7 linked regions of the Homo sapiens genome follow. The protein of the gene in region 1 interacts with the protein of each later gene in a pairwise test. Each region holds a gene or a part of one and is shown in the gene's direction. Other genes may lie near its edges. The genes, in order: ECPAS, RAB11FIP4, KIF5B, MYH10, UBE2G2, ANKRD17 and MYO10.

What was found.
Region 2: the proteins of ECPAS (region 1) and RAB11FIP4 interact in a two-hybrid assay, tested with the Homo sapiens proteins (one large-scale study listed by BioGRID).
Region 3: the proteins of ECPAS (region 1) and KIF5B interact in a two-hybrid assay, tested with the Homo sapiens proteins (one large-scale study listed by BioGRID).
Region 4: the proteins of ECPAS (region 1) and MYH10 interact in a two-hybrid assay, tested with the Homo sapiens proteins (one large-scale study listed by BioGRID).
Region 5: the proteins of ECPAS (region 1) and UBE2G2 interact in a two-hybrid assay, tested with the Homo sapiens proteins (one large-scale study listed by BioGRID).
Region 6: the proteins of ECPAS (region 1) and ANKRD17 interact in a two-hybrid assay, tested with the Homo sapiens proteins (one large-scale study listed by BioGRID).
Region 7: the proteins of ECPAS (region 1) and MYO10 interact in a two-hybrid assay, tested with the Homo sapiens proteins (one large-scale study listed by BioGRID).

What each region holds. Positions count from the first base shown.
Region 1 is NC_000009.12:111,473,991-111,478,426, reverse strand, and holds part of ECPAS (proteasome adapter and scaffold protein ECM29), read left to right. Parts: intron 1-4,436. UniProt on the Homo sapiens protein: Adapter/scaffolding protein that binds to the 26S proteasome, motor proteins and other compartment specific proteins. May couple the proteasome to different compartments including endosome, endoplasmic reticulum and centrosome.
Region 2 is NC_000017.11:31,527,253-31,531,688, forward strand, and holds part of RAB11FIP4 (rab11 family-interacting protein 4), read left to right. Parts: intron 1-589; coding exon 590-671; intron 672-1,153; coding exon 1,154-1,291; intron 1,292-1,367; coding exon 1,368-1,526; intron 1,527-3,073; coding exon 3,074-3,217; intron 3,218-4,363; coding exon 4,364-4,436. UniProt on the Homo sapiens protein: Acts as a regulator of endocytic traffic by participating in membrane delivery. Required for the abscission step in cytokinesis, possibly by acting as an 'address tag' delivering recycling endosome membranes to the cleavage furrow during late cytokinesis.
Region 3 is NC_000010.11:32,032,092-32,036,527, reverse strand, and holds part of KIF5B (kinesin-1 heavy chain), read left to right. Parts: intron 1-533; coding exon 534-638; intron 639-860; coding exon 861-1,006; intron 1,007-1,689; coding exon 1,690-1,838; intron 1,839-2,489; coding exon 2,490-2,683; intron 2,684-3,753; coding exon 3,754-3,822; intron 3,823-4,436. UniProt on the Homo sapiens protein: Microtubule-dependent motor required for normal distribution of mitochondria and lysosomes. Can induce formation of neurite-like membrane protrusions in non-neuronal cells in a ZFYVE27-dependent manner.
Region 4 is NC_000017.11:8,473,296-8,477,731, reverse strand, and holds the end of MYH10 (myosin-10), read left to right. Parts: intron 1-683; coding exon 684-856; intron 857-1,783; coding exon 1,784-1,928; 3' UTR 1,929-3,508; downstream 3,509-4,436. UniProt on the Homo sapiens protein: Cellular myosin that appears to play a role in cytokinesis, cell shape, and specialized functions such as secretion and capping. Involved with LARP6 in the stabilization of type I collagen mRNAs for CO1A1 and CO1A2.
Region 5 is NC_000021.9:44,794,794-44,799,229, reverse strand, and holds part of UBE2G2 (ubiquitin-conjugating enzyme E2 G2), read left to right. Parts: intron 1-4,436. UniProt on the Homo sapiens protein: Accepts ubiquitin from the E1 complex and catalyzes its covalent attachment to other proteins. In vitro catalyzes 'Lys-48'-linked polyubiquitination. Involved in endoplasmic reticulum-associated degradation (ERAD).
Region 6 is NC_000004.12:73,136,350-73,140,785, reverse strand, and holds part of ANKRD17 (ankyrin repeat domain-containing protein 17), read left to right. Parts: intron 1-502; coding exon 503-1,255; intron 1,256-4,436.
Region 7 is NC_000005.10:16,698,217-16,702,652, reverse strand, and holds part of MYO10 (unconventional myosin-X), read left to right. Parts: intron 1-64; coding exon 65-110; intron 111-814; coding exon 815-1,690; intron 1,691-3,079; coding exon 3,080-3,203; intron 3,204-4,436. UniProt on the Homo sapiens protein: Myosins are actin-based motor molecules with ATPase activity. Unconventional myosins serve in intracellular movements. MYO10 binds to actin filaments and actin bundles and functions as a plus end-directed motor.

The sequences.
Region 1 (4,436 bases):
GCCTCCTGAGTAGCTGGGATTACAGGTGTGCGACACTGCGCCTGACTTATTTTTGTATTTTTAGTAGAGACGGGGTTTCACCATGTTGGCCAGGCTGGTCTCGAACTCCTGACCTCGTGATCCACCCACCTCTGCCTCCCAAAGTGCTGGGATTACAGGCGTGAGCCACTGTGTCCGGCCTATTTATTTTTTTTGAGTAATACCATTGAGCATGAAGTTGCCAGAAGGCTGGGTGCGGTGACTCAAGTTTGTAATCCCAGCGCTTTGGGAGGTCGAGGTGGTCAGATCACTTGAGTCCAGGAGTTCGAGACCAGCCTGGGCAACATGGTGAAACCCTGTTACTACAAAAAATATAAAAATTAGCTGGGTGTGTTGGCATGCGCCTGTAGTCCCAGCTACTTGGGAGGCTGAGTGGGGAGGATGGCTTGCACCCAGGAAGTCAAGACTGCAGTGAGCTGAGATCACACCACTGCACTCTAGCCTGGGTGACAAAGCGAGACCTTGTTTCAAAAAAAAAAAAAAAAAAGTTGCCAAAAATAGGCAGGTTAATTTTGGGGTGAGACTTGTTATTGTTAGCATTTGTTATCCTTTCACAAACCTCATGTTTGAGTCAGTGATTATAATAGAAGAATAGTAAAGCTGTTTATTTATTGTGTGTTTACCGTGTGTTCTAATTGTTTTGCATGTATCAACTAATTGAATCCTCAGAACAACCCTGTGAGTTTGGTACTGGTACTGTCTCAGGGGTAGAGCTACCCTCATTAGACAGTTAGGACTTGAACTTAGATTCTCTGATTGCAAAATTTGTATTAATTCTGCCCTACTACTACTGTGTTATTCCTGTCCTGCATGGGAGAATATATAGTTCATAACAAGATCAAAATGGCTTTTTGTGTGTGTGTGTGTGTCTAACTAGTATCCAGAGAGAACCTTCTGTAGTGTATAAAATGTGGCAATCGGGGCCAGGCGCAGTATCCAGAAAGAACCTTCTGTAGTGTATAAGATGTGGCAATCAGGGCTGGAGCGGTGCCTCACACCTGTAATCCCAGCACTCTGGGAGGCCGAGGCTGGGGGATAAGTTGAGAGCAGGAGTTCAAGACCAGCCTGGCCAACATGATGAAACCCCCGTCTCTACTAAAAATACAAAAAAATTAGCCGGGTGTTGGGACGTGCACCTGTAGTCCCAGCTTCTTGGGAGGCTGAGGCAGGAGAATTGCTTGAACCTGGGAACTGGAGGATGCAGTGAGCTGAGAACGCACCACTGCACTCTAGCCTGGGTGACAGAGCTAGACTCCATCTCAAAAAAAAGAAAAAAAAGAAAAAAGGACCAGGCGCGGTGGCTCACGCCTGTAATCCCAGCACTTTGGGAGGCTGAGGCAGGTGGATCACCTGACGTTGGGAGTTCGAGACCAGCCTGACCAACATGGAGAAACCCCATCTCTACTAAAAATACAAAATTAGGCAGACCTGGTGGCGCATGCCTGTAATCCCAGCTACTTGGGAAGCTGAGGTTTAGAGTTCCTGAGGTTTGAGGTCAGGAGTTCAAGACTAGCCTGGCCAACATTGTGAAACCCTGTCTCTACTGAAAATACAAAAATTAGCTGGTTGTGGTGGCACACGCCTGTAGTTCCAGCTACTCAGGAGGCTGAGGCAGGAGAATCACTTGAACCTGGGAGGCAGAGATTGCAGTGAGCCAAGATTGTGCCACTGCACTCCAGCCTGGGTGACAGAGTGAGACTCCCACTTGAACCCGGGAGGCGGAGGTTGTGGTGAGCTGAGATTGCATCATTGCCCTCCAGCCTGGGCAACTAGAGTGAAACTCCATCTCAAAAAAAAAAAAAAAAAAAAAAAATTCTGATGTTACTGAACAGAACATAGTAGATTTTTGGGTATGTTGCCAAAAAAGAAAACCATTAGTTTTGACTGTTAAAGGCAGTTCTGAAATCTAGTTTGTAAATTAGTTTAGGTCAGAGCCTGTAGCTTTCTTTCCTTATGCTTAGAGTGATTATAACTATTGCAAATGAAATGAAATTCAATGCAAGACATGTGGCTAGTTTTTCTGCTAATACTATCTTCTGCCACTTTATGGAAAAGTTGACATTATAGTTAATATTTCAGGAGTGGGTTGAGAGATTTCCAACAGGGAAGGAAGCATTTGAGACTTTTCACCTGGTCAGCTGTTTAGTGGTTTCGTATTCTGGGCTTTATAATTATAAGGCATCCTTAGAATCTGATCTTCGTTGGGATAAAGGCAACTCATGAAGGAGCAACAGCCTATAATCTTGAAGGATGCACTATTCAATTTGACCATTTGACATAGCCATGGGAAACTTCAGTTGCAAAAGTTGGCCAGATAATCAGCATGTCAGGTGTCTTCTGAGAGAGCCTCTGCTAGTGCTGGGAATCCTGGTAGCTCTTTTAGAGGATGAGATTTGGGAAGCTGTGTGTTGAACATGATTCTGTGACCATACTGAAATAGCCCCTAAGAGCTAATTGCTTAAATGACCAGAATACAGGCTTCCAAGCTGATCTTTGTAGAAAGGCCAAGGCAAGCCTGTATCATTTAAATTTTAGTTACTTAACCAAATAGGAAAGTTAAGATGGAAAAATGACCACGGATATTTCTATTTTTTATTAATTTCCATTCTGATTTTTTTACTTTCACTGCATTCTGGGTTTTTTTTTTTTTTGAAACTAGAGTCTCACTCTGTCACTCAGGCTGGAGTACAGAGGCACAATCTTGGCTCATTGCAACCTCTGCCTCCCAGGTTCAAGTGATTCTCCTGTCTCAGCCTCCTGAGTAGCTGGGACTACAAGGCGTGCACCATCACAACTGGCTAATTTTTGTATTTTTAGTACAGATGGGGTTTCACAATGTTGGCCAGGCTGGTCTTGAACTCCTGACCTCAAGTGATCTGCCTGCCTCGGCCTCCCAAAGTGCTGGGATTATTGGCTTGAGCCACTGCACCTGGCCCACCACATTCTGTTTTGAATTATGCTTTCAGTAAACTATAATATGTGATCAAGGCCATTGTCAGTGAGAATAGTTGGCACAGGAGCATTGACCTTGTTCAGAAGATAGATGTTAAAATTGAAGTCACTGCCAGTGTTCTCAGATGGTTTGATCCCTGTTGCTGAGCTCTCGTTTCAGACCTGGCCTTGATGCTTCCCATTTTATATGGCTTGTTTTGCCCATGTATTTTTTCAATTCAATAAGCAGACTTTTAAAATTGAGTAAATAATGTATGGTGCTGTCCTCAGAGGGCTTATAATTCAGTGCAGAGACAGATTTATGTGCAAATGTAAATAACATACACAAAGCACGGTAAGTAAACTGCCTAACACAGTTCTTTGGAAACCTCAAGAAATGAGAATGGTATTTGAGGCTAAAGGAAAAATAGCTTGAGCTGAGACTTGGAGATAGGGAAATATTATGCAAAACAAAAAAAGCTGAGTAAGTCTGTTATGATGGGAATGGGGGTGCTACGGCTGTGTGAAGTACTGGGAAAGGGGATCAGCTGTGTGGTTTGAGACTTGGCCCATGCTGCCTTTATGATTTGAGATCTTGGACAAATTACCTTACCTTTGCAAGTCTCAGTTTCTTCCTCATAAAATTGGAATGACAAGATTCACTCATAGTATTGTTAGGATTAATGTATGTGAAAATGTACTGTGTAAACACTTAAGCTCTTATAAATTATTATTATTTTTGGTGTGGGATGTAATAGCAGATGATGCTGTGGAGATAGGTTGGGACCAGCATGTTGTAGGAATGCCAACAGAACTAGTTTGGACTTTGTTCTGTAGACAGTAGAGAACCATCAGAGCTTTTAAGCAGGAGCGTAACATGAGTAGGTCTGTTTTGTACGGGTAACAGGTGGCATTGGTGTAACACTGATTGCAAGGATCCGGAGATCAAGAGCAGCAAGACTAATTAGGAGGGTATCACAATGGCCAAGTAAAAAGAAACTTAGGGTCTGAGTTGGGACAGTGGAAGTGGATTTGGCAAGGAGTTAATATAATGTAAAATCCCTAAAATAGGGAGAAATTGTTGGCTGACGAGATGAGGGTTGTTGAAGAAGGGAGGAGTTAGAGATGAATCTAAATCTGACCTGAGACTAGAAGGTGGAGGAGTAACAGAGAGTGTAGCCTCTAGACAGATTTAGGAAAGTGAAGGAAAGAGAGAACAGATTCAACAGATAGGTAGTCTGTGTTCAGCAGAAAGATTATTTGTTGAATGAATGGGTTGAATTATTGAGCCCCCATGTTGTTCAGGGAGACTGCTTTGAGTAGTGGCTAAAACCTCTGGAACTGGAATCAGAGACAGTTTTGAATCCTGATTCTGATACTTCTTAATGTGTTCTTGAACAAGGGACCTAACTTGTAGGCCTCGGTTTTCTCATCTGTAAAATGAGATAATAAAACTTACAAGATTT
Region 2 (4,436 bases), on another chromosome or scaffold:
ATGCATACAAGAAGAATCTGCGTTCCTACTCTCTAATGAATGTTTCCACTTATTGGAAAAATAAAGGCCACGTGTGGTGGCTCACTCTTGTAATCCCAACACTTTGGGAGGCCAAGGTGGGCGGATCACATGAGGCCAGGAGTTTTTGAGACCAGCCTGGCCAACATGGCAAAACCCGTCTCTACTAAAAATACACAAATTAGCTAGGCGTGGTGGTGCATGCCTCTAATCCCAGCTATTCAGGAGGCTGAGGCACGAGAATTGCTGAAGGAGTTAGAGGTTGCAGAGCTGAGATTGTGCCACCTCACTCCAGCCTGGGCAACAGAGCAGGACTCTGTCTCAAAAAAAAAAGAAAGAAAATAAGAATGATAATTTACTATTTTGCTTACAAATAGTCCTTACTATTTTGCTTTGGCTGATAGGAAGCTCACGGCTAAATTGTCTTTGACATAATAATCATATTCTTTCTCTCAGTTGGTTTCTGGTATCTTTCCTCTGGGAGGAAGCAGAGAATCACTGCAGACTGGCAGGCGCTTATCAGATAGTCTACATTCCAGGTTTCTGAGATTTGTCTTTCTCCTTTCGCCAGGGTGCAGCAGTTGGAGGAAGAAAATACAGAGCTTAGAACAACAGTGACTCGGCTCAAGTCTCAAACAGAGAAACTGGATGAGGTGAGCAGCAGATCCAGGCTTGGAGGGGCAGGGCTGGCCATCGGGAGCCTTTAGTTTATTGCTTCTGAAATTCTAAACAAATGCCGCACCCCCTAAGAAATGCAAAAAAAGTGAATAACAACTTGTGTTTCTGTATTTCTGATTTTCCAAGTTTTCTACAGCGAATGTATTTATTACTTTATACAATGGAGAAAAATTAGTTTTAGAAAGAGGTTAGCTTCTATTTGGGCTAACACCTTCAATTCAGGTTGCATCTAGCATCGTTGAAGGACTTCAGAGGCCTGAGGTTTTTAGTTGTATTTCTAGAATCATCGGGGCTCTGGCCGTTTCTGTAAGCCAAGACTCAGGGCTCCGTCTAAGGGAGCTGGTTTCACTGTGCATCTGCCTCGTGAAGATGGCTGACCAGACCCCAGGGACACCCCTGGACATAGTGAGCCCCTCTCTGGGAACTCTCCTCCCCTGATCGGGTCTCCCTGCTCCAGGAGCGGCAGCGCATGTCTGACCGTCTGGAGGACACCAGCCTGCGGCTCAAAGATGAGATGGACCTGTACAAGCGCATGATGGACAAGCTGCGACAGAACCGCCTTGAGTTCCAGAAGGAGCGGGAGGCGACGCAGGAGGTAGGTCCCAGGCCAGCAGGCACCAGGGCTCCTTCCAGCATCCCTGCTCCTGCCAACCTGCTTCTCTCCCTCGCAGCTCATCGAGGACTTGCGGAAGGAGCTGGAGCACCTGCAGATGTACAAGCTGGACTGCGAGCGGCCAGGCAGGGGCCGCAGTGCCTCCTCTGGCCTAGGCGAGTTCAATGCCAGGGCCCGCGAGGTGGAGCTCGAGCACGAGGTCAAGCGGCTCAAGCAGGTGGGTCTAGCAGTCTCTGTGTCCAGTGGGGCAGGGTGGCCGGGCCCACCACGTGGGTTTCCTGTGCAGGATCTGTGGTAGGGGAGCCCAGAGCTGTAGCAGCACTGCCTGTCTGCTTCTCAGCAACCTGTTTGCCAGGGCTGACTGCCCCATTTCACAGCTCAGGAAAATCGATCCAAAGATCTCTCCCTTACGTCTATGTAAGGAAATAGACCCTGCCTTGGTGCTCAGGGTGGAGGATGAGACCATACCCAGCTGCAGTATAGTGCCTGGAGGCATTGGGTTCTCCCAGAAGTAGACCCTCACCCAAGGTTCCTTTTTTTTTTTTTTTTTCCCAAGAGACAGGGTCTTGCTCTGATACCCAGGCTGGAGTGCTTTGGCACTCCATAGCTCACTGCAGCCTTGAATTCCTGGGCTCAGGTGATCCTTCTGCCTCAGTCTCCCTAGTAACTAGGACTACAGGCACACACCACCATGCCCAGCTAATGTTGTTTTTGTTTTTTGAGGCAGGGTCTCACTGTGTTGCCCAGGGTGGAGGGCAGTGGTGTGATCACAGTCACTATGGCCTCAAATTCCTGGGCTCAAGCAATTCTCCTACCTCAGCCTCTCGAGCAGTTAGGACTACAGGAGAGCACCACCACACCTGGCTAATTTACTTATTTATGTATTTATTTCCAGAGATGGGGTCTCCCTATATTGCCCAGGCTTGAACTCCTGGGCTCAAGGGATCCTCCCACCCTTAGTCTTTGAAAGTGTTGGGATTACAGGAATGAGCCACTGTGCCTAGCCAGAAGATTACATTTCAAGGAGCGCTGCCTTAGCTAGAGACCTTTGGGTGGGGGAGTGGATCAGGAGGAGGCAGTGGCCAGGTGGTGCTGGGTGAAGTGTCAGCTCTGCCTGACCCTGCAGGTGGAAGAGCCTGCAGCATAAATTATCCTTCTGAGTTTGTTCCACTGGGGACAAAGGTGCTGGTGGCTGTGCTCTCACAGAAATCCTAAAACCCCAACCCTTCTCCTAGTCTAGGGGTGGGGTGCCCAGGGTCCCAGGTGTGAGCATTAGGGCTCTTTAGGCAAAAGCTGGAGTGTGAGACCGGTGCATGGGATCTGGGCGGGTCCGCCTGGGTCAACTCCAACCAAGCAGGATTCGGAACGTGGCTGCTGGGGGAGCCAAGGAAATGAGCTGGCCAGCCTGCCCAGAGAGCCCAGAGCATCACTTCCTTCACTGGGCTGCTGGGTGGGTGATGTCCCTATGCAGGGCCTAGGGAGGAAGGGATGGCCAGGAGCCTTGGCTGCGCTGAGCAGGGCTGTAACTCCTCCACAAACCCTGTGCACTCCCAGGATGCCAGTCCCCTGGACCAGGACCCAGCCCTCCTTGCCCCCAGCGCTTGGCAAAGGCTGCAACATCTATGGCCCCTTGAACCAGCCGTGACACACACCTGTGGGAATGGCGCTGGCGGCAGGTCGGGGACGGTGGATGTGGAGAAGTGGGTTCCAGTGGGCTGTGGATGCCTCTTGGGGTTGATGTCGCCTTCGTCCTTCTCTCTGTAGGAGAATTATAAGCTGCGGGATCAGAACGACGACTTGAATGGGCAGATTTTGAGCCTCAGCCTCTACGAAGCAAAAAACCTCTTTGCTGCCCAGACTAAAGCCCAGTCTCTGGCTGCGGAGATAGACACCGCCTCGCGCGATGAGGTAACCACACCACCGGCTCTTGCTTTGGGGCCTGGCCGCCCTCTGTGATTCCTTCTCCCGGCCCCCACCTGCCCAGAGTGAGAAAACCAGACCAGGGCCTGGCAGAGAGTCCCATCTACAGCTACCCCACATGACAGGGCAAGGCTGTGAGCAGGGGAGGGGGCTGCTGGAGAAGTTAAGTCAGCTCTGAGTTCCGCCTGTGCTGGAAGGAGTGCGGGTTTGGTTCAGAGTGGAGTGTGAGTCTTAGGTCGGCCAGAAAAATGCCAACATAGCCAGCTGAGTGGATCAAGCTGTGACTCTGGGTTAGGCTATCACTCCCGCTCTTCCCAGTCCAGAGAGGGAGGACATTAGCATTTCCCCAGCACCTGCTTCTGCGGTGTGTTTTCACTTAATCTCCTGATGACTCTGAGGCTTTAGGAACAGCTCCACATTCCAAGCTGGGAAGGTGGAACCCAGGACCACCCAGCTAGGGAGGGAGAGGGACCCAGCTCTCTCCAAAGCCAAAGCCTACCCTTCCTGCCACACCAGAGTATGCTTATGAAAGATCAGGCCTCCAAAATGCCCCGGCTGCATTGTAACATGAATTACAAGACACTCTGTCACTGAGCCTCACCCTCTGCCTGGGACACGGGGTGAAGAGCTGACCTCTGTCCTCAAGGAGCTCCCAGGTGAGCTGGGCCCCAACCCCTGGGCAGAGGCAGCATGTCAGCAATGTCCGAAAGAACACTGCCCTGGAGAAGAGCAGTGTGGGGCTGGGGGTGGGGAGAGGTGTTCCAGGCAGGAGACAGCTCCCCTTTGGAGTCTTAGCGGCCCTGGGACTTTGTCAGTCTTGATTTTAAATGACTTTGGCTAGTGTTTTCTACTTTTGCAAAAAATTACCCACACCTGGGCCCCCTCTACAAACTGATCACATTGGAATCTCTGGGGGTGGGGCCTGGGCACCTGCATAGGTAATACTAGGGGCTGAGCCACTTCGACTCTGGTCCTGGCATCCAAATGCTGAGGCTGTCCTGGGGCCCACCTTGCCCAGGATCTCCTGATGCCCTCTATTGTCAGGCACTGGCCTGCGACAAGCCTGGGAGTCTGGACTCTGCCTGCACCCTATCCCAGGCCCAGCCACTGACCCGTCTTTCCCATTTCCTTCAGCTAATGGAAGCCCTGAAGGAGCAGGAGGAGATCAACTTCCGGCTGAGGCAGTACATGGACAAGATTATCCTCG
Region 3 (4,436 bases), on another chromosome or scaffold:
GAATTGGTTGAACCCGGGAAGCGGAGGTTGCAGTGAGCTGGGATCAAGCCACTGCACTCCAGCCTGGGTGACAGAGTGAGACTCAGTCTCCAAAAAAAAAACACCACAACATAGATATTTAGATATTTTATATATTTTTAAAAGAAGCAGATTTGCTTATATAATGTGTTTAAAACTCAGTCTCTGTTTTCTAACAGTTACAACATCAACATTATGCATTAGCCAATTTTAGAAGGTTCCTGTTTTCTAATGTAGCAAAGGGGACTAACAGATTAATGAACTACAAATTTACATTTAAATTGGTTATTTTCAAGAGTACCTACAAACTACAGATAAAATTTGATGTCTCTCTAATCAAACTCTTAAGAGTAGTACTCAAGAAATGGTGGTATGCTTGGCAAATAAGATCATGAAGCTTTTCATGTTCTTTTTTCTTTTTTACTGGTTATTGATGACATATGAACATTTTAGAAAATGTAAAGAAAATTATAAACTTGTAATTTTGTTTCATTCTTTTGAAATCTTATGTATAGGTTAGTAAAACTGGAGCTGAAGGTGCTGTGCTGGATGAAGCTAAAAACATCAACAAGTCACTTTCTGCTCTTGGAAATGTTATTTCTGCTTTGGCTGAGGGTAGTGTGAGTATACATGTCTTCTATCTCCCTGTTACCTTATGGGGCATTATTTAAATATAGGTGTATATGTGTGCCTGGGTGTGTATGAGAGAGAGAGAGAGAAAGAGAGATTGAGATTCAATGTGTTTGAATCAGTATGTGTAAGTTAGTTGTCTTTTGGGAGTTTATTTTATAATAACATTTTATTATACTGGTCTTGTTTTCTTTCTTTGTTTTTGTATGCAGACATATGTTCCATATCGAGATAGTAAAATGACAAGAATCCTTCAAGATTCATTAGGTGGCAACTGTAGAACCACTATTGTAATTTGCTGCTCTCCATCATCATACAATGAGTCTGAAACAAAATCTACACTCTTATTTGGCCAAAGGTTTGTTGTTAAGAAAGTACAAAACCTAAATTTAGATAGACCTTTTGTTTATAAAATGTAGGAAAATGTGAGCTGTTATTCCAACCTGTACATACTGTTTTGTGCTAGACACACTCAGTTTGAATTGATGACAGATAATACAAGGTGGGTCTGATTTTTAGACTGCTTGGTTTAAGTTTTAGTACACATTAAAGTCAGATGTAATTTTAGTCAAATTTGTGTGACAAGCTGTAATTTGGTATTAAAGAAAATAAGCATTTGAATCAAATAATGAGGTCAAAGCCTGGCAAACATAATCCTCTGTTAAGCCTGTAGACATGCATGACAGGTTAATATAATCTGTATGAGATGATTAGGAAAATCAGTAATGATGATTCCGTCTTTGACTTTCAACAGTAATTTCTTAATTCAGCCTTGCAAACAAATTGGAAAAATATAGGCCTTTGTCTTTTATTTTTAGTGGTTTGTTGATTTTTTTTTTTTTAAAGCTATTCACAGATTTTGGAGCAGACTCAAATTTAGTTGAGTTGTAAATAACGTCATATGTTGCGGCTTTTAGTATTTAGTCTAAGAGATTACTGGACAAGCATAAGTTTCTTAGCCATATATACATATATTCCATATAGATAAAATTAAAAATAATTTCAGTCTCATCCTTTTTTTCCTCCAATTACATCTCTTAGGGCCAAAACAATTAAGAACACAGTTTGTGTCAATGTGGAGTTAACTGCAGAACAGTGGAAAAAGAAGTATGAAAAAGAAAAAGAAAAAAATAAGATCCTGCGGAACACTATTCAGTGGCTTGAAAATGAGCTCAACAGATGGCGTAATGGTAATAACTTAAGAATTTGTCATCTTCAGTTTGTTAAATACAGATTTAGAGCATAGAAACGTAGAAATAGTTCAGCAAAATCAGTAAGTGACTAGATCAAGAAATTTAATAGACATCGAAATAATTTTTAAAAAAATTAATAGAAATCCTGGAGCTGAAAAATAAAATGAGCAAAATGCAAGAGACCATCAGTAGTAGAATTAATTAAGCAGAAGAATCTGAACTTGAAGACAGATTATTTGAAAATAACACAGAGAAGAAAAAGTTTGAAAGAACGAGGCTGGGTGCACTGGCTCATGCCTGTAATCCTAGCACTTTGGGAGGCCAAGGTGGGCAGATCACTTGAGGTCAGGAGTTAGAGACCAGCCTGGCCAACATGTTGAAACCCCATCTCTACTGAAAACACCAAAATTAGCCTGGCATGGTGCTGAGCGCCTGTAATCCCAGCTAATCAGGAGTCTTGAGGCAGTAGAATTGCTTGAACCCTGGAGGCAGAGGTTGCAGTGAGCCTAGATTGCACCACTGCACTCCAGCCAGGGTGACAGATTGAGACTCTGTCTCAAAAAAAAAAAAAAAAATTTTTAAAGGAATGAAATTGAAATTAGCTTTAGACGTCGTTTTTTTATTAACCACTTTATTTTCTTATTTTAGGGGAGACGGTGCCTATTGATGAACAGTTTGACAAAGAGAAAGCCAACTTGGAAGCTTTCACAGTGGATAAAGATATTACTCTTACCAATGATAAACCAGCAACCGCAATTGGAGTTATAGGAAATTTTACTGATGCTGAAAGAAGAAAGTGTGAAGAAGAAATTGCTAAATTATACAAACAGCTTGATGACAAGGTAGGTATTGCTTGATTTAGGTCTGCTTTATATTAGGATACTATTGACATGGGTGTTTTTATTTTCTAACTTTTCTCATTTCAGTGCTGTGGGCACTTAGGATCTTTATGCATCTTCCTTGATTTCTGTTAATCTTGTAAAAATTATTGTATTAACAAAATAAAAAGTCATAATTTCAATTTCTGTGTGGAAACTGTATGAGCATGTATCTTTTCTTCCCCCTCTTTTTAAGCTAAAAGAACTTTATAAGGCAGCAGTCCCCAACCTTTTTGGCACCAGGGACTGGTTTCAGGGAAGACAGTTTTTCCGTGGATCAGGTCGGGGAGATGGTTTTGGGATGAAACTTCCACCTTGGATTATCAGGCATTAGATTCTCATAAGGATCCTCTAACCTAGATCTCTTGCATGCACAGCTGATAATAGAGTTCGCGCTCTTAATGATATTCTAATGCTGCTGATCTGGCAGAAGGCGGAGCTCAAGTGGTAATGCTTGCTGCTCACCTCCTGCTGTGCTTCTTGGTTCCTAACAGGCTTCCAGTACTGCTTTGTGGCCTGGGGGCTTGGGGACCCCTGTTCTAATGAAAATTTGGCATTGGGTCATTGGGAGCCTCAATGATACCAATTGTTAGAATCAGGGCTCTGAAGACTCCAATAAAAGATGATGTGAGAGATTAAGGGAAACACAATAGAGTGGAAATAATATCTTCCTGCTTTGCATATAGAAGTAATGTCAATAGTATGAATAATAGCAAACTAAGAACGTAATAGAATGGAAGGCAAGAACAAGAGTAGTAAAGAGATTAGAAGAAAATATTTTCTTAAGTTGATATTTTTAATATATTTTAAGCAGAGATGGCAGGTTCGAAGTACATGACCATTATAAGTATTGATAATTGAAAGAAATTCCTTTTGTTTTGCCATTTTCTTAAAAGAGATTAAAATAAGCAATGTTGAATTTAGAGAAATGGTTTTGAAATATTTCTGGGGAGTAGTAATCTTATAACCTGTATTGGGAAACAACTAGAACCAGGTTGTTAGCTACTGGTTAACCGGATACTTCACAATTCTAGGATGAAGAAATTAACCAGCAAAGTCAACTGGTAGAGAAACTGAAGACGCAAATGTTGGATCAGGAGGAGGTGAGTTGAATACCTTTTACATTGCTTCCAGAAAAGCTTTATAGTTTTGTTTTCTGAATCCCATTGACTTTGTCTTTAATAGTTGTATAATTTTGGGTATGACTGTCTTTGTGGGAATAAGAATGTCACATGGATAAAGTGAATTTTTACTTATTCATCGTATCTACCCAGATACAATCTGTTGTTCATTTCCGCCATCTTTTTTTTCACCCTGGTTCTTGACATTTCTCTTCTTGTCACTTACTTTGGATCCTCATTTTATCTTCTCACCCAGCAGAGCAGGGGGATAATTGAAAAGCAGTCCTTTAAATTTTTTTGTGGGGGTGGTGGGCAGGGTGAAGACAAAGACTGCTTCGGTAAGAAAGAGATACTCTCCATCAGTGAACTTAATCCTGGTCAGATCATCTTTCAACTATAGCATTTCATATTTCAACTATAGCATTATTCCTCAAAGGGGCACTATTGATATTTTGCATTGGATAATTTATGTTATTCTGTCCTTTGTATTATAGGACATTAAACATTCCTGGTCCCTACTCCTAAATGCCATTAGCATTCTACCCTATTATTAACACTCCCACAGATTTCCGGATATCCCTACAGGAGAGCCACTA
Region 4 (4,436 bases), on another chromosome or scaffold:
TGGATCTGAGGATTTCACTGCCTTTGGCCCGAACCCTCCCCAACTTCATTCATTCAGTCAGGCAACCTGGCCTTCCCTTCCCACCCCCACCCTTGGGGCCTAGCAACACGGAGCACAGTTGAGGGTGGTGTGCGCTGGACCCACGAAGCACTGACCAGTGCCTGTGTGGCTCAGGAATGAAGGGTCCAAAAGGGAGGCTCTTAGTTCTGTGGCATGTCATCCCAGGGTGGCTTTCTGCTTGAATCCAAGTCTAGTATCTGAGATGCCCATCCTTGAAAGGAGGTGTAAAGATGCATTGTACCATCTTCTGGGCTGGGGATTGTCCCACATTGCTGGTTCTTCCACGTTTTGCAAGAATAGCAATTCCCTTTCAGTCCCCTAGGTCACGTGTGTGAAGACAGTAAACGCTGTCATTTTTCTGCAGAAAACTCACTGGTAAAAACAGAGTCTTGAGTACTTTTTCATTTCTTTTGGCCTAGTGTGCTTTGTAGATGCTAGCTTTGCTGAGAGCGGCAGGCCGGTTACAGAGCCTCCGACCAGCCCCCAGGCACGCGTGTACATCCGTGTACACGCGTGCTCACAAGGGTAACAGGCAGAGCCCCACACTGCCACGCTCGGGGTACAGAGAGGCCGACACTGGATTCACCAGTTTGGTTTGTTTTGGTTCATGTACCCTCCCCAAGATGGAGAAGGCCAACGCTCGGATGAAGCAGCTTAAACGCCAGCTGGAGGAAGCAGAAGAAGAAGCGACGCGTGCCAACGCATCTCGGCGTAAACTCCAGCGGGAACTGGATGATGCCACCGAGGCCAACGAGGGCCTGAGCCGCGAGGTCAGCACCCTGAAGAACCGGCTGAGGTGAGCAGGCATGCGGCCCCGAGCTGACAGGCAGCTGCTTTGTGGGTTAGCTTAGGCTCGGGGTGCAGCTGGTCAGAGGAAGTTTACTTAGATCCATACCCAGTGACCCATTCTTTCTCCCGAACCACTTCATTTAAGATTTCTGACCTTTATAGTCGTCCTTGGGGAGAATAAAAGAGGAGGCGGCCCTATTCATTGCCAGTCACTAGAGGACCACACTAATCCACCACACCAGGCTGGAGCTGGGTCAGGCATCCATCCCTGTCCAGATATCCATTAGTGAAGTGAGCTCCCAGCCTCTCTTAAAAAGCAGGGCAGGAGCTCCTCCTGGGACCTGGTGCCATCAGCCCTCCTCAGCACCGTCCTCCTCACCACAATGGATCTGCTCTGTACCAGTGAGAGGGCAGAGCGTGAGAGAGCTACAGCTGAAGTCTCTGCCCCAGAAGACCAGGTCGGCGGAGGTTTCAGCACATCTGGCCAATGGGCAGATTTGGTGCATACCCTGCTTTTATACAGCCATCAAACTAAGCATGGTTTCTACATTTTTAAATGGTTATAAAAACGCCGAAACAAAGAATATGCAACAGAGTCCCTATGTGGCCCACTTTGCTATCTGGCTGATTCCCTGGTTAGCAGGTAGAGCTTGGCCTTAATCCGTCTTCCTTACCATTTCCATCACACAGTCCTAGGCTGAATCAAGTCCTCCCCAGTTCTCCAAGGACCCTGCTTCGCGTACTCTGCAGGCAGGGTTGTGGGAGAGGCAGAAAAGCACGCAGTCCTTCCCCATCGTACCGCCACCCCCACAAGGTCGTGTGTCCGAGGAGGGGGTGCAAGGGGAAGGTTCCGTGGCATTGAGTGGTTGAACATATTGACAGCCATGTGCTCCTGTCTGTTTACCCACACACATCTGCTTCCTGTGTTCTCCAGGCGGGGTGGCCCCATCAGCTTCTCTTCCAGCCGATCTGGCCGGCGCCAGCTGCACCTTGAAGGAGCTTCCCTGGAGCTCTCCGACGATGACACAGAAAGTAAGACCAGTGATGTCAACGAGACGCAGCCACCCCAGTCAGAGTAAAGTTGCAGGAAGCCAGAGGAGGCAATACAGTGGGACAGTTAGGAATGCACCCGGGGCCTCCTGCAGATTTCGGAAATTGGCAAGCTACGGGATTCCTTCCTGAAAGATCAACTGTGTCTTAAGGCTCTCCAGCCTATGCATACTGTATCCTGCTTCAGACTTAGGTACAATTGCTCCCCTTTTTATATATAGACACACACAGGACACATATATTAAACAGATTGTTTCATCATTGCATCTATTTTCCATATAGTCATCAAGAGACCATTTTATAAAACATGGTAAGACCCTTTTTAAAACAAACTCCAGGCCCTTGGTTGCGGGTCGCTGGGTTATTGGGGCAGCGCCGTGGTCGTCACTCAGTCGCTCTGCATGCTCTCTGTCATACAGACAGGTAACCTAGTTCTGTGTTCACGTGGCCCCCGACTCCTCAGCCACATCAAGTCTCCTAGACCACTGTGGACTCTAAACTGCACTTGTCTCTCTCATTTCCTTCAAATAATGATCAATGCTATTTCAGTGAGCAAACTGTGAAAGGGGCTTTGGAAAGAGTAGGAGGGGTGGGCTGGATCGGAAGCAACACCCATTTGGGGTTACCATGTCCATCCCCCAAGGGGGGCCCTGCCCCTCGAGTCGATGGTGTCCCGCATCTACTCATGTGAACTGGCCTTGGCGAGGGCTGGTCTGTGCATAGAAGGGATAGTGGCCACACTGCAGCTGAGGCCCCAGGTGGCAGCCATGGATCATGTAGACTTCCAGATGGTCTCCCGAACCGCCTGGCTCTGCCGGCGCCCTCCTCACGTCAGGAGCAAGCAGCCGTGGACCCCTAAGCCGAGCTGGTGGAAGGCCCCTCCCCATCGCCAGCCGGGCCCTCATGCTGACCTTGCAAATTCAGCCGCTGCTTTGAGCCCAAAATGGGAATATTGGTTTTGTGTCCGAGGCTTGTTCCAAGTTTGTCAATGAGGTTTATGGAGCCTCCAGAACAGATGCCATCTTCCTGAATGTTGACATGCCAGTGGGTGTGACTCCTTCATTTTTCCTTCTCCCTTCCCTTTGGACAGTGTTACAGTGAACACTTAGCATCCTGTTTTTGGTTGGTAGTTAAGCAAACTGACATTACGGAAAGTGCCTTAGACACTACAGTACTAAGACAATGTTGAATATATCATTCGCCTCTATAACAATTTAATGTATTCAGTTTTGACTGTGCTTCATATCATGTACCTCTCTAGTCAAAGTGGTATTACAGACATTCAGTGACAATGAATCAGTGTTAATTCTAAATCCTTGATCCTCTGCAATGTGCTTGAAAACACAAACCTTTTGGGTTAAAAGCTTTAACATCTATTAGGAAGAATTTGTCCTGTGGGTTTGGAATCTTGGATTTTCCCCCTTTATGAACTGTACTGGCTGTTGACCACCAGACACCTGACCGCAAATATCTTTTCTTGTATTCCCATATTTCTAGACAATGATTTTTGTAAGACAATAAATTTATTCATTATAGATATTTGCGCCTGCTCTGTTTACTTGAAGAAAAAAGCACCCGTGGAGAATAAAGAGACCTCAATAAACAAGAATAATCATGTGAACGTGGAATCTGTTTTCTCACCTTCTGTTCTCGATTTCCCATCTGTGATCTGACTGGAGGGTGGGTGCTACACACCAACTTCAAATGATGGCGCCAGGCCCTTTTTGCTGAGGGCGCTGTCTCCCAGGTCAGACGACAGAATAATTCTCAGGCCAGTCCTGGCTCCAACTCTTGTTCCTGCCAGTGCCTCACAGGATGCACACGCACTAGGAAGGGAAAGACCACCCAAAGGCAGGAGCTGGCCCACCTGTCAAGGGAGTGATTTAGGAGGGCTCTGGTCACCAGCCAATGAAGCTCACTGCTGGGTTAGGACATTTTCAGGGGTCCAGGACATTTCAGGCTGCATTTTCAGGCAGACACGCATTGAAGATGCTTTTGGAGGATTCAGTGATGAGGCCAAGGGCAGCCTCTCTAGTGCGGGCCAACTAGGATGAGAGAAATACTAGGGCAGCACAGAATCAAACAGAGAATGCCGATTTCTTGTTCCATAATATTCTCCGGTTAGACTGGTTCTGGGGGTAAGGGGTCTATGACTAGGCTTCTTGGCAGCAGTAGAAACGTGTGAAATGGGCCGAAGTGCCCTCTTCCTCCTGTGCCACTACCATAGGAGAGGAAAGGTGAGTCACAGGTATGGTGCTTCAGCAGGGCTCCCACCCCCACATCCAGTATCTTATCCAAGAGTGTACAGAATTCAGAGGCTTGTTTTTCTCAAAAAGTAAGAACTCTGGGCTGGGCATGGTGCTCACGCCTGTAATCCCGGCACTTTGGGAGGCCAAAGCAGGTGGATCATTTGAGGTCAGAAGTTCGAATCCAGCCTGGCCAACATGGTGAAACACCGTCTCTACTAAAAATACAAAAATTAGCCAGGTGTGGTGGTGCACACCTGTAGTCCCAGCTACTTGGGGGGCTGAGGCATG
Region 5 (4,436 bases), on another chromosome or scaffold:
ATCATTCAGAAAATCTTAGGGCCCTTAAAAATTATGCTAAATCTACTCTGAGCTCTAGAGATGGAAAAACAACCTGGATGACAGCACATCTGTGTACAGCATGGTTTACTGAATATAAGCCCACTGTTGAGACCTACTGCTCAGAAAAAAAGATTATCTTCAAAATACTATTCCTGACAGTGCACCTGGTCACTCAAGAGCTCTGATGGAGAGGTATAAGGAGATAAATGTTTTTGTGCCTGCTAACACAACACCAATTCTGCAGCCCATGGATCCGGGAGCACTTTTGACTTATTTAAGAAATACATTTCATAAGGCCATAGCTGCCATGAAAAGTGATTTCTTTGATGGATCTGGGCAAAGAAAATCAAAAGTCTTCTGGAAAGGATTTATCATTCTAGATGGCATTAAGAACATCTGTGATTCATGGGAGGTCACCATATCAACAACAGGCGTTTGAAAAAGTTGATTTCAATGCTCATGGATGACTTTAAGGGGAGGAAGCAACTGCAGGTGTGGTAGAAATGGCAAGGGAACTGGAATTAGAGGTGGAGCCTGAAGATGTCACTCAGTTGCTACAATCTCATGATCAAACTTGAACAGATGGGGAGTTGAGTCTTACAGATGAGCAAAGAAGTGATTCTTGAGATGGAATCTACTCCTGGTGAAAATGCTGTGAACATTGTTGAAATGACAAAAGATTGAGACTATTCCATAAATTTAGTTGATAAAGCAGCCGCAGGGTTTGAGGGTATTGACTCCAGTTTTGACTGAAGTTCCACTGTGGGTAAAGTGCTGTCAAACAACATCACAGACTACAGAGCAATCTTTTGTGAAAGTAAGAGTCAGTCCCTGTGGCAAACTTAATTGTTGTCTTATTTTCAGAAACTACCACAGCCACTCCTGCCTTCAGCAACTACCACCCTGATCAGTCAGCAGTCATCAATATCCGGGCAAGACTGCACCGGCAAAAAGATTATGACCTGCTGAAGGCTCATATGATTGTTAGCATTTTTTAGCAATAAAAATTAAGCATATTTTGGCAAATAATAATTATTTATTTATTTATTTTTTGAGACAGGGTCTTGCTCTGTCACCCAGGTTGGAGTGCAGTGGCACAACCACAGCTCATTGCAAGCCTTGACCTGGGCTCAAGCTATCCTTTCACTTAATCCACCTGAGTAGCTGAGACTACAGGCATGTGCCCCTACACCTGGCTGATTTTTCTGTCTTCATCTTGACCTCCCTCTATGTTGTCAGGGTTTGGCGAAAGTGACTCCATTTTGATTCTGACAATGTTCATACTCGAACAGAGGGTTGGATGTGGGGGACTATTACTTCTGTGTCCTCATGGGAAACCTGGCTGGTGGGTCAGATGTGTGAACACCTACCATTTCTTGGTATCCTGGTTTGTGTTTGTGTCTCTGTTTTAGTTTTATTTTAGCCCTATTTCTAGGGTTAGGCTAGACTGTGAGCAGGTATTTTCTCTTTTTTTTTTTTTTTTTTTTTTTTTTTGAGACGGAGTTTTGCTCTGTCGCCCAGGCTGGAGTGCAGTGGCGCAATCTTGACTCACTGCAGGCTCCGCCTCCCGGGTTCATGCCATTCTCCTGCCTCAGCCTCCCGTGTAGCTGGGACTACAGGCGCGCGCCACCATGCCCGGCTAATTTTTGTATTGTTAGTAGAGACGGGGTTTCACCGTGTTAGCCAGGATGGTCTCGATCTCCTGACCTCGTGATCCGCCAGCCTCGGCCTCCCAAAGTGCTGGGATTACAGGCGTGAGCCACCACGCCCGGCCTTCTCATTTTTATTGAGAAGAAAATCATTAAACCCCTGCATAGGAAATTAAGTTCAGGCTGCTGCTTCAGGCCAGTCTTTGCATTGTTGAACTTGCATTTTCTAAGGATATTTGCATTAGCAAAGATATGTTCTCCCTTTTATTGTCCTGACAGAAGCTTCATCTGTTATTTCAATTATATTGTCAATTAGTTTGCAGTAATAAGACCTAAATAATGGTTGATTTCCGAAGGTTTGTCACGGAAGTGTGTTGTGTGTTTTTACATGTTAACATGAAATTTTGGACTATGTGTAGAAGGTAGAACTCTAAACATACCTCACTAAGATTCCCATGCCCTTGTTATTCAAGCACTTTCTAGTACTTCGGTGGAGGGACTTTGGAGATGCAAGTCAGGTTAGTAATCAGCAGACCTAAAGAGTGGGAGATTATTCTGGATTACCGTGAAGGATCCAATAATAACATAAGGCTCAAAAGCAGTCAGTGAAGGCAGGATGGGGGTGGTCAGAGAGATTCAACATATGACAAGATCTCTACCTTCTGTGGCTGGCTGTGAAGATGGAAGAAGGAGCCATGACCTAAGGAAGGCGGGCAGCCTCAAGAAGCTGAGAATGATCCCAGACCAACAGACCCGTGGAAGTGAATTCTGTCAGCAACCTCAATGAACTTGGAGTGGCAGCCCTGGTGAGACTCTGAGCAGAGAACTAGCTGGCCCATGCTGTGTCCAGACTTCTGACGCTTGGAAACTCTGAGATCATCAATGAGTATTGTTTTAAATCACTAAATTTGTGGTAATTTGTTACAGCAGTGACAGAAGATGAATACAGTGTGTTATTGAGGGGACTTTGTTTTTCCTGTATCTTAATAATGTGATAAAATTTAGTGGGTTTTTTTTGTGTATCATTTACTGGTTTTTTTTGTGTGTGTATCTTAACATCTAGTTTGTCCTCATAACGTATTTTAAGGTAGCACATTCCAGTGTAAAGGTGGACTTGACAGAATCAATCTCTACATAGAAGGGGTTTAGATAAATTTGGTTAGATGTTCATGCACACTTTATTGTATTTGGGAGTAGTCATATAACTGCAGAAATTCAGAGGTGGTGGGACCTTGGCTATGATTCTGTTCAAGCCCCCTAATTTTACAGATTTTATGGAATTGAGCAACAGACAAGATGATTTTGCCTAGGTTCATAAACAGGAAAAAAGGAGAGCCAGGAAAGAACTCAATTGTTGTAAACTGCTGTCTTGTCTTGATGTTCTGTCTTCATTCATCATCCAGCCTTTCCTAGGAGTGTCAGAGATAGACCCAGGTAGAAGTGGGCTGCCCATGGGGGGCTTAGCACAACAGAAATTTATTCTTTTACTGTTCTGGAGGCCAGACATCTAAAATAAAGGTGTTGATGGGGTCATTCTTCCTCTTGAGGGCTCGAGGGGAGAACCCTTACTTGCCTCTTCCAGCTAATGGTGATTGTTGGTCATCCTTGGCGTTTATTGTCATTCTCTTGCTTGAGGTAGTGTAATTCTAATCTCTGCCTCCATCTTCGCATGGCCATCTTCCCCCTGTGTGCATGTCCTAAATGTACATGTCTTTCTGTGGATATATGCTTTTATTTCTCCTGTGTAAATAACCAGGGTTATAATGGGAAGTGTGTGTTTAATTTTTAAAGAAACGGCCAGTTTTCCTCTAGTTCACATTTCCCTAGCAGTGTATTAAGTGTTCCCGTTGCCCCACCTCCTTGCTGACACTTCGCGTGGCCAGTTGTTTTTTGTTTTCTTTTTTCTTTCTTTCTTTCTTTTTTTTTTTGAGACAGGTTCTCACTCTGTCACTCGGGCTAGAGTGCAGTGGTGTAGTCATGGCTCATGGCAGCCTCTGCCTCCTAGGCTCAAGCAATCCTGCCACCTCAGCCTCCCAAGAAGCTGGGATTACAGTTGCATGCCACCTCGCTTAGCTAATTTTTGTATTTTTAGTAGAGATAGGGTTTCGCCATGTTGCCCAGGCTTGTCTCGAACTCGTGGGCCCAAGCAATCTGCCCGTCTTGGCCTTCCAAAGTGTTGGAATTACAACTGCGAGCCACTGCGCCCTTCCAGTTTTAAAAATTTTAGCCATTCTATTGGGTGTATAGCAGTCTTACTGAGGTTTTGTTTTATTTATTTATTTTTTTTTATTTTTTATTTTTGAGGTGCTCTCTCTGTCATCCAGGCTGGAGTGCAGTGGCATGATCTCAGCTCACTGCAACATCTGCCTCCTGGCTTCAAGTAATTCTCCTGCCTCAGCTTCCCAAGTAGCTGGGGCTATAGGCGCGTGCCACCACACCTGGCTAATTTTTGTATTTTTAGTAGAAACGGGATTTCACTATGTTGGCTAGGCTGGTCTCTAACTCCTGACCTCAGGAGTTTGCCTCGCCTCCCAAAGTGCTGGGATTTACGGGCATGAGCCACAGCCCCCGGCCCTTACTGAGGTTTTCATTTGCATTTCCATAAGACTCGTGATGTTGAGCATCATTTCACGTGTTTATTTGCCATCCATATGTCTTTTTAGATAAAGTGACTTGAGTCTTTGCTTCTTTCAAAATTGTGTTGATTTTCTTAAGTTTTAGTTCTTTGGCTGGGCGCAGTGGCTCACGCCTGTAATCCCAGCACTT
Region 6 (4,436 bases), on another chromosome or scaffold:
TAATTTCTTGTTACTTCTTAGTGGTTTGGGTACTTTTTGTGTGTATGTGTGTGTGTTTAAAAGGCACAGACTATGAAATGTGAAAAAACCTGACTTAGAGGTCTGTTTCCTCTTCACCCTAATAATTTAGCATTATTGTTCTGTTCTTATGATGAGTTTTAACATCTTTATGACCATATAAAATATCTACACATAGCCTTAGATGTTACTTTAATTGCACACTTAGATATCACAAACCTGCATTCCTCTATTGTCTAATTTAAGCCATGTGCTATTTTTAAGATTCTGAAATTAATTTACAAAGATTTTGCACATAAAATACATACATTTTATATTTGTGAAAAAGAAGGTGGATTTGTTTTTAATTTTTTAACAGTGCATTTTCACCTGTTATGGATATGATTACTTAGTGCATAACTGTTGGCACTAAACCTCCCAACAGTAACTCTGTAATGAGGATGCCATTCATGTGCACTTCTGAGGGGGTTTCTTTTTCACACAGCTGCTTCTAAACAAAAGTCCAGCAGCCATTTGCCAGCAAACAGCCAGGATGTACAGGGTTACATCACCAATCAGTCTCCAGAGAGCATTGTAGAAGAGGCTCAGGGAAAGTTAACAGAACTGGAACAGAGGATAAAAGAAGCCATAGAAAAGAATGCACAGCTGCAGTCCTTGGAACTGGCTCATGCTGACCAACTTACCAAGGAGAAGATCGAGGAGCTCAACAAAACAAGGGAGGAACAAATTCAGAAGAAACAAAAGATTTTGGAGGAACTACAGAAAGTAGAACGAGAGTTACAACTGAAAACTCAGCAGCAGCTAAAAAAGCAGTATCTAGAGGTTAAAGCTCAAAGAATTCAACTTCAGCAACAGCAGCAACAGTCTTGCCAACACCTGGGATTACTAACTCCTGTTGGAGTTGGAGAGCAGCTTTCTGAGGGAGACTATGCACGGTTACAGCAAGTGGATCCTGTTTTACTTAAAGATGAACCCCAGCAGACTGCTGCTCAGATGGGTTTTGCGCCAATCCAGCCTCTGGCGATGCCTCAAGCTTTGCCTCTGGCGGCAGGTCCCTTGCCTCCAGGGTCCATCGCAAATCTTACAGAACTGCAAGGAGTGATAGTTGGACAGCCAGTACTGGGCCAAGCACAGTTGGCAGGGCTGGGGCAAGGAATTCTGACAGAAACACAACAAGGGTTAATGGTAGCCAGCCCTGCTCAGACCCTCAATGACACGCTGGATGACATCATGGCAGGTGGGTTTATATTGTTATGAGCAGGTATCAAATATGATTTGCTTAAGGCGAGTAAGAATGTACCCAAATTTTTTGCCGTTACCCAACTTGAGAACTATTTTTGGACTGACTCATGTCTAGCTTTAGAAGTATTAGTTCAATCTCAGAAGTTCTCAGATGGATACAGGTCAAATTAAAGATTAGCTCATTCAGTACAAATGACTGAAGCTTTCTGGCTTAGCTTGGTAGCTTGAGAATCTAGGTTTTTCAGTAGTGGGGTTGATGTTTGATTTTTGTTTTTGTTTTCATTTTTTTCCTTTAAGTTCAGAATACTGAGATTGAATTTTGGCATTTTGCTTCTGTATTCACACCAATAAACTGGGAAATTGATAGAAGTTGAAGTGCAAAACTAGTAGGACACATCAGGAAGCTTATTTATGAACAGAAATACTTTATATCCTAATGGATCAGACTTCAAACCTGATGGATATTTAAAAAAAAAAACACTTTTACAAAATTAATAAAGTTCAAAACCAAATAGGGTTTAATTATACTGTATGTAAGTGATTTTGTCCCCTGTGAATGTTAATGTGTAGTCTCTTTCTAACTGTATCATGAGAAGGTGTGGCCCCCCTGAAAGTATCATAAATGATATATTTTTAGATGTGTAGCCAGATAAATTTTATTCGATTATAACTAGTTTCATTGACAAGAAGATACACTTTAGAAGACTGTTTTTATGCTTCTAGTTTTTGGTACTTATTTTTTGTGTTTTGTAACAAAGTAATGGGATGAGGTTTTATAGGGTTGTGAACCATAAGAATGCTGTACTGAGAAGGATAATTTGCTTCATTAAAAAAAGAAAATTTGAAAAGGAAGGAAAACAGAAAAATGAAAGGAATAAACAGTGGAATTTTGGTGACTTCCATCTGATCTCTTCCCCTTTTTTATTCATTCATCTGTACTTAGAGGATGATTGACTTTTTCTAATTTAAAAACTGTTTCAGTAGCATTAAATATGATGAGCTTATTTTTTTTTAAGTTTCATCTTTTAAATGGATAATAGGAAACTAAACTGTATAGTGTTTAGATATTTAGGTAACGTTCAGACACTAAGAATCCAGCTGAGATAGATTTTATACTTAAAAATATCTGTAAAGTTTGCTAGTCCGCCTTTAATAGCACCTCAGTAGTTATAACATGTGGAATGAAAATTTCTGCTAGTCTTAAGGGTTAAATAACCACATTGGAAAAATGCTAGTAATAATTACTAGTAAGAATTGTACGACTCTTATTGATGAGTGCAAAATTTTTCTATAGATTTGAAAGTCACTACTAATCATGACTAGCTGATTATAATAATTGAGAGTAAACTTTTAAAATTATTAAATATCCTGTGAAAGTTGGAGCACAGTAACCATTAACCCTAAATTTGATACTATGTCCATATGAATTCAGATCATAATAGTGCTCTATCATGTGAAACTACTAAAGGATGTATAGAGTTAAATATTACGTATCCACTTTAATGAAGAATAGGTATTACACAGTAATGGTTGTTTAAAAAAATTTTTTTTATATAATATCAGAGTTTACCTGATGTGCTTGGGCATGCATAGTTGTCAACAATGATTTGCTAGTTGTACAGTTTTGTATGCTGATCAGAATTATCAGAAGTTTGTAAAGTATCTTTTCTTTTGATTCATACATGAAACAAAAACAATTCTGTGTATTCTCAGTGTTCTGTATAAAAAAATTTTAAGTGCATATAACTTTTTAGGAAATATGACAGATGCTTGTCATAATACAAAAATATTTTACTTTTTTATTATGCTCATTTCTATGGGGAGAGAAACATAGCCAGAAGGAGGAAGAGTAGGATTGAAAACATTTGGCTACTTACCTGCAACTCATCCCTGACAACAGGCATGTGCACATTCACACACATGCACATATACTCATGCACTGACTTTTGCAGCCTCAATCTTAAATTTCTGTGGTAGGATGTATCCTTTCAGTTGCTTAATGATGATTTCCACTTCTTTCTTAGGGGTTTAAAGTATATTACAGCCTCATTAGTCTCATCGTCTTCTTTTCCTCCCTCTAGCACAGTCCCTGCTCTTTATTTCTTAGGCTTCATTTATTAGACTTCTACCATAAAATTTGCTGACCAAAATCGTCTGTCTTTCCTGTTCTTCACACTTGCCAAACCAGAATCAGCTCCCTGTTTAACCTGTCTCAACACCTTGCCTTTGCTATCATTTCAAGTTCCCTTTTTTCTATGCTGACATTAAAACTTTTCTGATGTGTGGTTCTCCCTCTCTAAATCTAACACTAAAATGAAGCCCCACATGTAAAGATTTTTACCAGAGTTCCTTCAGGTACCTACATATTTTACATTTGTTTCTTTTAGTTGTAGAGAATGGATGTGTGATTGACAGTCACCTAATTTTAGTAAACCAATTTTATAGGTACCCCGAAGGAAATGATGAGATAATTGATTTTTCCTGTCTCCTTTTAGATGAGGTGATAAGAACAACCAATTTGACTTAAAAAAAAAAAAAAAAAAAACTCTGTAATTTTGGTAGGTTCTTTAAAAGAAAATATTCCAGTTGAAATGTAAATTATAATTTAGTCATTTAACAATAAAACTTAGATTTTTTTTAACCTGTTTAGTATTATGAAATAAAATTTAGTGATTCGGACAGACTGGTGTTCATCCTGTTTAAGCTACTTTTTGTATTTAGCAGTTTTATTGTGAAAATCCAATCAAAGGAGATATGGAATCAATTTAAAGAGCTCTAGATTTTATATGATTTTGAAATGTATATCAACAATATGTACATTTAAATTATCTTGATCTTTTCGTAACATACAAAACTATCAATATGGAGTAACAATATCCAGATCGCTAGATTATCAATTTAATATATTAGTATATGCCCTTTTCTATTGGTCTGGATCCCTAAGGATTCAAACAGTGTTTTGTTTTGTTTTGTTTTGTTTTCTCCTTCGTTTTTCCTTTGGCTTTTAAGTGGACTTAAAAATGTATAATTATAGAATGTGTGTTGCTATAATGTATAGTGTATGTTTGTGCCTGAACTAAGGATTTCATGTAAAATAGATTTCTTAATTCATAATTATGTTTATAATTGTTATAATAAGATCAATTTCAGTTTTATTCTTGACAGGATCATAATCT
Region 7 (4,436 bases), on another chromosome or scaffold:
TCTCTCTGAAAAGTGGTTCCAGGGTTATTGTTGTTGATTTTCACTTTTCCTTTACTATTTTTAGAGAAAGAGAGAGAGAGCGAAGAGAAGCCGAGCTCCGCGCCCAGCAGGTAATGAGTGCAGTGACAACTTAGCCTCTTGTGTTTCTACTTCCTTCCCACTTCTAATGCTTGGACTCTAGGATTCAAAACTGAATTAAAGTAGAAAGATAACAGGAAGAACAATTTAAGAGGATGTGTTTATGATCCAATTTCTGACCTATTACAATTGGGTAAAGCGTAGTGAATGGCTGAGGTTTTAGTGTGCATCACAAGAGTATAATTTCTCTAAATCGGTATAACCAGCGTGTTAGTTTGCTAGGCCCACCACAGCCAAATACCACAGACTGGTGGATTGAACAGTGGAAACTGATTTTCTCCCAGCTCTGGAGGCCGGAACTGCAAGATCAAGTTATCCTTAAGTTTGATGTCTTCTGAGGCCCCTCCCCTTGGCTTGCAGGTGGCCGTCTGTCCAGTGTGTCCTCACGCAGCCTTTTTTCTCTGTGTGACCTAGTCTCCTGTTCCCAAAAGGACACCAGTCATCTTGGATTGGGGCCCACCCTAGTGAACTCATTTTAACTTAGTCTCCCCTTTAAAAGCTGTATCTCCAAATGCAGTCACATTCTGCAGTATTGGGGTTAGGACTTCAACCTATAGACTTTATGGGGACACAGTCCAACTCATAATGACCATATTTCATCCTGGTTGCAAAGCGGGAGCTATGCTTGGACTTTTGTACTGAAGCCTTCTGAAATCTCCCTTCTGCTTCTGTCCAGGAAGAAGAAACGAGGAAGCAGCAAGAACTCGAAGCCTTGCAGAAGAGCCAGAAGGAAGCTGAACTGACCCGTGAACTGGAGAAACAGAAGGAAAATAAGCAGGTGGAAGAGATCCTCCGTCTGGAGAAAGAAATCGAGGACCTGCAGCGCATGAAGGAGCAGCAGGAGCTGTCGCTGACCGAGGCTTCCCTGCAGAAGCTGCAGGAGCGGCGGGACCAGGAGCTCCGCAGGCTGGAGGAGGAAGCGTGCAGGGCGGCCCAGGAGTTCCTCGAGTCCCTCAATTTCGACGAGATCGACGAGTGTGTCCGGAATATCGAGCGGTCCCTGTCGGTGGGAAGCGAATTTTCCAGCGAGCTGGCTGAGAGCGCATGCGAGGAGAAGCCCAACTTCAACTTCAGCCAGCCCTACCCAGAGGAGGAGGTCGATGAGGGCTTCGAAGCCGACGACGACGCCTTCAAGGACTCCCCCAACCCCAGCGAGCACGGCCACTCAGACCAGCGAACAAGTGGCATCCGGACCAGCGATGACTCTTCAGAGGAGGACCCATACATGAACGACACGGTGGTGCCCACCAGCCCCAGTGCGGACAGCACGGTGCTGCTCGCCCCATCAGTGCAGGACTCCGGGAGCCTACACAACTCCTCCAGCGGCGAGTCCACCTACTGCATGCCCCAGAACGCTGGGGACTTGCCCTCCCCAGACGGCGACTACGACTACGACCAGGATGACTATGAGGACGGTGCCATCACTTCCGGCAGCAGCGTGACCTTCTCCAACTCCTACGGCAGCCAGTGGTCCCCCGACTACCGCTGCTCTGTGGGGACCTACAACAGCTCGGGTGCCTACCGGTTCAGCTCTGAGGGGGCGCAGTCCTCGGTAAGTACCTGCCTGGCGTGTCCCAGTGAAATGGGTGGCCGGTCACACCCACCCCTGTTGCATCCTCAAGTTGAATGAAGATACCCGTAGGATATCTGTGCAAAGATTGCAGAGTCGTGGTCTTAGAGATCATCTTAAACCTTTTGCTTATTCCATAAGCCAATTGCATTCATAAGTAGAACTTTGATGTGCCTGTTTCAGTTTTAGCACAAAGCCTAGAGCTGAGCTGTGCCCAAGACTTCAGAAAACTGGCTATTTATTTATTTATTGTTGTTGTTGTTGTTTTTGAGGTGGAGTCTTCTCTGTCATCCAGGCTGGAGTGCATTGGCAGGATTTTGCCTCACTGCAGTCCCCACCTCTCGGGTCCAAGCTATCCTGCTGCCTCAGCTTCCTGAATAGCTGGGATTACAGATGCCCGCCAGCACACCGGTCTAATTTTTGTATTTTTAGTAGAGATGGGGTTTTACCATGTTGGCCAGGCTGGTCTTGAACTCCTGACCTCAGGTGATCCACCTGCCTCGGACCCCCAAAGTGCTGGGATTACAGGCGTGAGCCACCATGCCCGGCTTAAAACTGGCTTTTTAAATGGAACTTTTGTTTATTTTATTTTATTTCTTCCTTCCCTTTTTTTACAATTTGAATGGAACTTTTAGCTTTGCCGTGCTGCGTTAGGAAATGAAGACACATCCTGAACTGGAACAAGACTTGCCAGGGGTGAACTGGCAAACTTTCCTTGTACTAACTTCACAATCCAAACCACACGATGTTATTTCTTATAGTGGCTGTAAAGGAAGAAGCTGCAGGGCTTAAATGTACTCTTTTCCAGTTTCTGGATTTATCTGTAGTTTACTTTTATTTTGTCGCTTTGGTCGTGCATTGAATGTTCTCTTGACTTTCAAAGATTTGAAAATATATTTAATATAGTAATTCAGAGGGGGTGAACTCTTGCATGGTTTGATTAAAATTATAGCCTTAAAAAGCATTGTTAGTTTTAGGGCAGATAGCCTTTGGATTCAAGTATATCTTGTCTTTCATGTATCAATTCAACTGACCATTTGACCTTAAAAGTTGGTATTTTTAATTCCGAATTATTTGTGTGCTACCGTAAATCAGGCGTATTGCTTGTCAGTTGTTTTTTTTCTTTTTCCTTTTCCCTTTTTTTTTTTTTTTTTTTTTGAGACTGAGGCTTGCTCTGTTGCCCAGGCTGGAGTGCAGTGGCACGATCTCTGCTCAGTGCAGTCACTGCCTCCTGGGTTCGAGTGATTCTGCTGCCTCAGCCTCTTGAGTAGCTGTATTTTTGTATTTTTTCAATGATGATACATGCTGGGTATCTTCGTGGCTTGCTTTGTGGCCTTTTCCCTCACCGTTGGCTTCTCTCTCTCGGTCCAGTTTGAAGATAGTGAAGAGGACTTTGATTCCAGGTTTGATACAGATGATGAGCTTTCATACCGGCGTGACTCTGTGTACAGCTGTGTCACTCTGCCGTATTTCCACAGCTTTCTGTACATGAAAGGTATGACTGCAGCCGCCATGGAGTCTGGGTTAGGGGGAGAGCGAGGCGTTATTTTATCCGGGCTGATGGATGGCGGTGGGAAATAACGGAGGTGTTATTGTATCTGGGCTGATGGATGGGGACTGGGAAAGTCGTTCTACCTACCCTTACCTCAGTGTTGGGCCACTTAGATGAATGAAGGGACACCTTGTCATGTTGGTGTGACATGGGTGCTGTGGTCCTACCAGCATGAACACAGTCGTGACTCCCCTGGTTTGGTGCAGAGTGGCAGGACGAAGCATTTGCAACCACTGCCTCCAGTATCAGTCCTTCTCCCCTGTCTCTCCCTGTCTCGTTTTCCTTTCTTAGCTCTTTCTTCATCCTTCTATTTTCTCTCCCTCTCTCTCCCACTTTCTCTTTCACTGTCTCCCTCTCTGTCTCAGTCTCATTGCTCTCTCTCATATATACAGACATACAAACCAATGTGTGTGTTGCTGCTGCTGCTGGAATTGGTCGAGACCCATTCTCATGATAAACTGCATGTTCTCGGCCGGGCGTGGTGGCTCACGCCTGTAATCCCAGCACTTTGGGAGGCCGAGGCGGGTGGATCATGAGGTCAGGAGATCGAGACCATCCTGGCTAACACAGTGAAACGCCGTCTCTACTAAAAATACAAAAAATTAGCCGGGAGCGGTGGCGGGCTCCTGTAGTGCCAGCTACCTGAGAGGCTGAGGCAGGAGAATGGCGTGAACCCAGGAGGCGGAGCTTGCAGTGAGCCGAGATCGCGCCACTGCACCCCAGCCTGGGCGACAGAGCCAGACGCTGTCTCAAAAAAAAAAAAAAAAAACTGCATGTTCTCTCCTGCCAGGGATATTAGAGAGCCTAAAAGGATGTGCTAGACATGGGGGAAAGTGAAGATCTCACTGAGGCCCACTGCTGGCTTGAACTGCTCACCATACCTACTTCATGATGAGCATTTGCATTGTATGCTTTGATTGTTACTAACATTTGAGTATACTTTGCTGAACCTTAACACTTAGGGGCCTTGAGGCACACTCCTTTTGGAAAATTATTTACTATTTATTTATCTATTTATTTAGGTATTTATTTAAGACAGGGTCTTGCTCTGTTACCCAAGCTAGAGGGCAGTGGTGTGGTCATGGCTCACTGCAGCCTTGAACTCAGGTTCAAGCCATCTTCCTGCCGCAGCCTTCATAGGAGCTAGGACTGCAGGCGCACACCATCATGCCAGGC